2 separate regions of the Homo sapiens genome follow, and region 2 is linked to region 1. A link means that fine-mapping ties the variant in region 1 to the expression of a gene that starts in the linked region. Tissue or cell type: monocytes after R848. Region 1 holds a variant in brackets; the other region holds the start of a gene. All regions are shown on one strand. Distances are between the middles of the regions.

Region 1 (2,909 bases):
TTTCTTGGGGCTTTTTTTGTTTTGTTTTAGCTTTCTTCTTTTTTTTCTTTTTTTGAGACAGAGTCTTGCTCTGTCACCGAGGCTGGAGTGCAGTGGTGCAATCTCAGCTCACTGCAGCCTCCGCCTCCTGGTTTCAAGCGATTCTCCTGCCTCAGTCTCCTGAATAGCTGGGATTACAGGTGTGTGCCACCATGCCTGGCTCATTTTTGTATTTTTAGTAGAAATGGGGTTTCACCATGTTGGCCAGGCTGGTATTGAACTTCTGATCTCAAGTGATCCGCCTGCCTTGGCCTCCCAAAGTGCTGGTATTCCAGGCATGAGCCACCGAACCCGGCCTTGTTTTAGCTGTTAATATAAGTTAACATTAATCAGGAAAAGGGCTTTAATCTCCTCAACTCCCAAGTATTGCTTTCCCAAGCATCTCCTTTATGGTCTATGTATTCTTGACAATTTTCTGATTTTAGAAAAATACTCCCCTTACATACTCTATGGTAGTCTACTCAATGAGATATTAATTTTGGTAAATACAAATTTGGTGACAAAAAGATTCTGCTTGGTTTTCTGCTGAAAAAGACACAAGCAATTGATTAAATCATCAACGCAAACTGAAATGTAAATCCCCAACCAAACCTTCTCGGAACCACACCCAACTTTCTGGGTAGTAGGGCAGAGCCTGGAGAAATAGGTCAGCCAGGGCTGCAGGGAGCTAGAAAGATAGATGAAAGAGGGAGGATCCCATTCATTTTCAGTGCCATCCACTGTTTTAGGAGCATTACTGTAATTATGTCATTTAAAGAATACAAATAAGAGTATGGAAAAGGGATTTGGGATTCGAACAGAGGTCAAAAAATTCCTTGCCTGTCTTTATCCAGCAAGTACAAAAACATTTCTTGGCAGAAGCTGACAATGACAGATTCCAGGACGGCCTGGGTAGAGGTGGCTGCCAAGAACAGTCACCTCTTAGGAAGTCTAACACCTCCCCCCACCCCAAACAGGTGGCCGGGTCTTTGTAAGACTTGGCTAAACAGCCGATATAAGAAAGTGTGTGTTTAATTTTGGAGAAAGGGCCTGCTGTTTTATATGATTATTTTTAATTAGCTATTTTCTGAGGTTTGATTAAATTTGGAAATAATTGCATCTTGGGAACTATTCCAGAACCTCAGATTGTAAACCTAGGGCTGCCTCAGGAATTTGGGGATGGGTTGTCACCCTCTGACCAATTGCCAGTCCTGAAAACAAGCATCCTTTGTCTATAGAAGAGGTCGTGGCCATGCAAATTTTTCTAGTTCTTCTCTGCCTGGAAAGAGAATCCCATCTGGCTGACTTCTCTTTTTTCTCTATTTTCTTGTATGAAATATGCAAAACACAAATGCATGAGCCACCAGAGCAGCAGACTATGTCGCCTGAATATTGCAGATAAAATGGAAACATGACAAGAAGTTAAAATTTGCCCTTGGAAAAAGCATGCAAAATACACTTTATTTGCA[T/C]AATGACATTACAACACTTTTAATACATCCAGAAGGGGAAGTCAAGTAAATTATGGGGGAAAAAAGAAAATTGCCAGTTTGAAAAAATTCAGTCATAAATAAACTGTAAAGAGAAATCATTTAAGGATCTAGAATATTTAAAACTGGGATGTGAACTCACTGTTTTATAAATAGAAAAACCTGTTTCATTTTTTGTTTGAGACGGAGTCTTGCTCTGTCACCCAGGCTGGAATGCAGTGGTGCGATCTCAGCTCACTGCAACCTCCGCCTCCCAGGTTCAAGCCATTCTCCTGCCTCAGCCTCCCAGGGAGCAGGGACTACAGGCATGCGCCACCACGCCTGGCTAATTTTTTTTTTTTTGTATTTTTAGTAGAGACGAGGTTTCACTATATTGGCCGGGCTGGTCTCGAACTCCTGACCTCAAGTGATCCACCCGCCTTGGCCTCCCAAAGTGCTGGGATTACAGGCGTGAGCCATGGTGCCTGGCCAAAAAAACCTGTTTCTTTGTAGTGTTAAGATTATGTGTCTGACCCATTTCTGTTTATCACTTTGCAATTTACAAAGCACTTTTACACCCATTATACTATCTGATACTCATGACAATCTATGAGTTAGGTAGGGCAACTATTATTAGACCTGGTTTATACATGAAGAAACTGAAGTTCAGAACAGTGTTGTTCAAGGTCATACATGAGCTTTAATTGGAACCCACGTGCAGGTCTTGACTTTCAAAACTCCTGGACTCTTTACACAATATCCCACTGCTTCTATTCTCTTCCTGAAAATATTACGAAACTAAATAAGTTAACCATAGGGCAAACTCCTTAGTTAATTATATTTACAAGCACAAATTTAGAAAGGCTTTATAGTGTGGTCGTGAAGACCATGGAATGTGAAACCACTGCTTAGCTGTGTGACCTGGTGTAAACTACTAAACCTTCTATGCCTCAGTTTACTCTTCTGTAAGATAGGAATAATAAAAGCCCTTATCTAATCCAGGTTTCCAAAGCAACATGTGAGTTAATACATGTTAAGCACTTGGTACAGTTCCCGGTTCACAGTAATCACTTAATAAGTGCAAGGTATTATTGTTTTTGCAAATTAATTTTTGTGTTTAGGTTACTCCAATAAGAGTAACTGAGATATTTTAAGTAGCTTTGTATGTGTTGTATTACATAGATCCTAAAACTATACAAAATAAAAACTGAAACCAGATATTTCACTATCTCTAGTTTGCTCTTGCCAACTATAAATATATTTCTCTGTTATCTGATTTGGGATCAGACCTCAGAGTCAAATTAATTCGCCTAAAGTCATAACAAAATACTGTAATTTACATCAACCTTGCATCATCCTAGTCTAAGAATCACAGAGACTTCAATGTAATTTGGAACAGCCTTTTGCCCTTTCCAAAAAAATGCT
Region 2 (2,909 bases), 20 kb after region 1:
ATAATTCCAGCTTTCATTCCACACACTTTGAAAGTGGGGAGTTTTTCAAATGTAAACCAAGTATGTATATTTTTATTTTTTCAATAAAACAATAAAGATGGGTCTCGCCAGCCTGGTCTCAAACTCCTGAACTCAAATGGTCCGCCCACCTCGGCCTCCCAAAGTGCTGGGATTACAGGCGTGAGCCACTGCGCCCGGCCGGTCTGTGTGTATGTGTGTGTGTGTGTGTGTGTGTGTGTATATTTTTTTTTGAATTGAAACGGAGTTTTGGTTTTGTTGCCCAGGCTGGAGTGCAGTGGCATGATCCCGGCTCACTGCAACCTCTGCCTCCTGGGTTCAAGCGATTCTCCTGCCTCAGCCTCCCAAGTAGCTGGGATTACAGGCGCCCACCACCATGCTCGGCTAATTTTTGTATTTCTTATGGAGACAGGTTTTCACAGTGTTGGCCAGGCTAGTCTGGAACTCCTGACCTCAGGTGATCCATCCGCCTCGGCCTCCTAAAGTGCTGGGATTACAGGCATGAGCCACCTCGCCTGGCCGGCCTGTGTATTTTTAAAGGAAATAACCTAAGAGTTGTTTTTCCAGATTTTCAAAGAGGTCCTGTAAAGATTAAGAACCACTGAACCTTTCTCGTTTATGTGATCCTGGTTACTGTTCTCAGGAATAGCAGGACACAATGTCAGCTTTAACCCAGGCTAGTTCCTCTAAACTGCCTTCTTATCGGTGAAATGAAAATAATAGGGTTGCTATGGGGATTAAATGAGATGATACTCAAAAAAATGATAATTAATGATAAATCATAAGGTGTCTGCCACAAAGTGCCCCTATTATAAACAAACAGTGGCCTGGAGGGACAGTTTATAAATACTGCTCCTTTAGCATTCCACTAACATTGACTGAGTGCCTGTTCTACACTGTGTAGAGGCCCTGGTGAAAAAGATCTGCCTTCCAGTTTATTATCTAGTCGAAAGAACCGCAAAAGATAACAAAACACAATAGACTGAACGCCCTGAGAGGGGCATAAGTGCAGTGCTCTAGGAGCTGTAAAAGAGGTCTCGATATCCACTGGAGGAAAGTGCTTACTGGAGTTCATTTCTGGAGTGGGTTTAAAAGATGAACAGAGGGAATCTAAAACATTCACACAAAATCAATACTACACGTACACATTTTATTATTTTGTGGAAAGACCACTTAGAAACACCGCAATCACTTCTACTACTCAGCAGATACTGAGCAGTAGGTTTCGTGACAGAGCACCTGTCTTTTGTCCAGTCTGTTTACTATACATTGCGTGCTCTGGGCAGTCCTTATCTTCGTGTTCAGGAACAAAGTACACACACCCCTTTCCGAAACGAAGGGCCCAGGGACTCCGAGAAGGGTGGGAGCCCTCACGGCCAGGCCACACAATGGGGAGCCTCTTTACCCTAGTCATCACCCACCCTTGCAGGCCCCACTTTGCCAGGGTGCGACTTCTCGGGCCCCTTCGCCCCTCCCCTGCAGCCCCCAGGAGCGCAGCCACAGCCCGGCCGGGCGCCCTCCCTGTCTCTCTCTCTCTTTCTCTCTCGAGCTTTCCTCCTCCTTCACCGGGAGCCGGAAAACCCGGAGCGAACCAGCCCAGCACGGCAGCGCATGCTCAGTAGCGAGCAGGTTCAGTTCGCTAGTAGGAAGCTCCAGCGCTACACCGGCGGCGGCGGTGGCGGCGGCGGCCGCGGCGGCACCTCAGGGCAGCCAGATTCCCCAACAACGACCTCCGGTCCTTCCCCTTCCCCGCGAGACCTCCGCCCCAGCTCCGCCCCGCCCGGGGCTCTTGCGTTTCGGAGTCCCAACTACGCGGAGCGGGCGCCGCGGCCGGAGCGTCCCTCCACACGTCCTCCCCCAGCCGCCAGCTCCGCCGCGGGGCCAGACCGGGCCCGGGAGTGCAGCCCCGGCGGGCGGGCGGCGGCCGCGGCAGAGGGCAGCCCGGGGCGGCGCCGGCGGGCCGGGGAGGGGCGGGGGGCCTGGCCCCGGGGCGGTGGTGCGGGATGCCGCCGCCTCCGGGCCGCGTCCGTTCTCCACGGCTGGTACCTGTGTCGGGTGGGTGGCCAGGCGCGGGCCTCGCCCCCCAGCCCCCTCGCCAGGGCTAGCCCGGCTGCGCGGCGCCCGGAGGGGGCCGGGCCGTCCGGTGGGGCCGCGGCCCTGTTCCGCGCTGCGAGCTCGCCCTCTCGCGGCTCCCTGGCCCGGCCGCCGCCGCCCCTCTCCCCGCCCAGAGGCGCCCCGGGGGCACCATGCAGGCGCAGCAGCTGCCCTACGAGTTTTTCAGCGAAGAGAACGCGCCCAAGTGGCGGGGACTACTGGTGCCTGCGCTGAAAAAGGTGAGGAGCACGCGGGACCCCGCTTCCCGGCCGCAGCCCCCCAGCGCGGGCGCTGGGGAAGGGCTGGGGAGGCGGGGCGCGCGCAGGGCCGTCTTTCTTCCCGGTCTCGCCGCGTCTCCAAAAGGACGGCGCACACGGAGAGGCCCCCCTCATACGGCTGGCTCTCGGTGTTGACATCCACCGGGTGTGTGGGAATGCCGCAGGGAGCCGGGGGGAGTTTATCCGGATAATCCAACCCCTGAGAGGTGAATGCTTTGCCCTTTGATTCCAGGACAACAACAGTTGGAGGAGCCTCAGTTTTCAGCGGAGGTCAAAGCAGGCCACTTTTCCGTCTTCTTGGTCTTAGCCCGGAGCTGCTGTCAGCCTACCGTTTTAGGTGTCCAGTACGCTGGTTTTAGTGGCTTGAGAATGCCCTGGCCGTAAGGCTTGCTCAAAGGAATTGCGAGCTCGCCTGCCAGTAGGAACGTGGCCTGCTCTGCTCGCCGTCAGTATTCACTCCTCATTCTCCTGGTTTCCCCCGCTCCTCCGATTAACAGGGGCTGGTGCACATGCTACCAA

Which allele goes with the higher level. Alleles are on the strand shown, and positions count from the first base shown. SD is a standard deviation of normalised expression in the study named.
For the expression in monocytes after R848 of the gene that starts at base 1,636 in region 2, T is the high allele of the variant in region 1 and C is the other (large effect, 1.5 SD a copy in Quach 2016).

The links.
Region 2: SOS1 starts here. The variant in region 1 is fine-mapped to the expression of SOS1 in monocytes after R848 (Quach 2016, PIP 0.95). The same link has a PIP of 0.9 or more in monocytes after LPS and monocytes after Pam3CSK4.

What each region holds. Positions count from the first base shown.
Region 1 is chr2:39,139,933-39,142,841 of GRCh38, reverse strand. No RefSeq gene overlaps it. Among named protein-coding and RNA genes, the nearest start is that of SOS1, 20 kb to the right of the region's middle. RefSeq lists a silencer at 586-770 and a cis regulatory region at 514-966. The variant T/C (reference allele first, on the strand shown) is at 1,488.
Region 2 is chr2:39,119,778-39,122,686 of GRCh38, reverse strand. It overlaps SOS1 (SOS Ras/Rac guanine nucleotide exchange factor 1), which reads left to right and starts at 1,636. Exons shown (of 23, transcript NM_005633.4): 1 at 1,636-2,351. The coding sequence starts at 2,265. RefSeq lists a silencer at 1,767-2,486 and an enhancer at 2,687-2,766.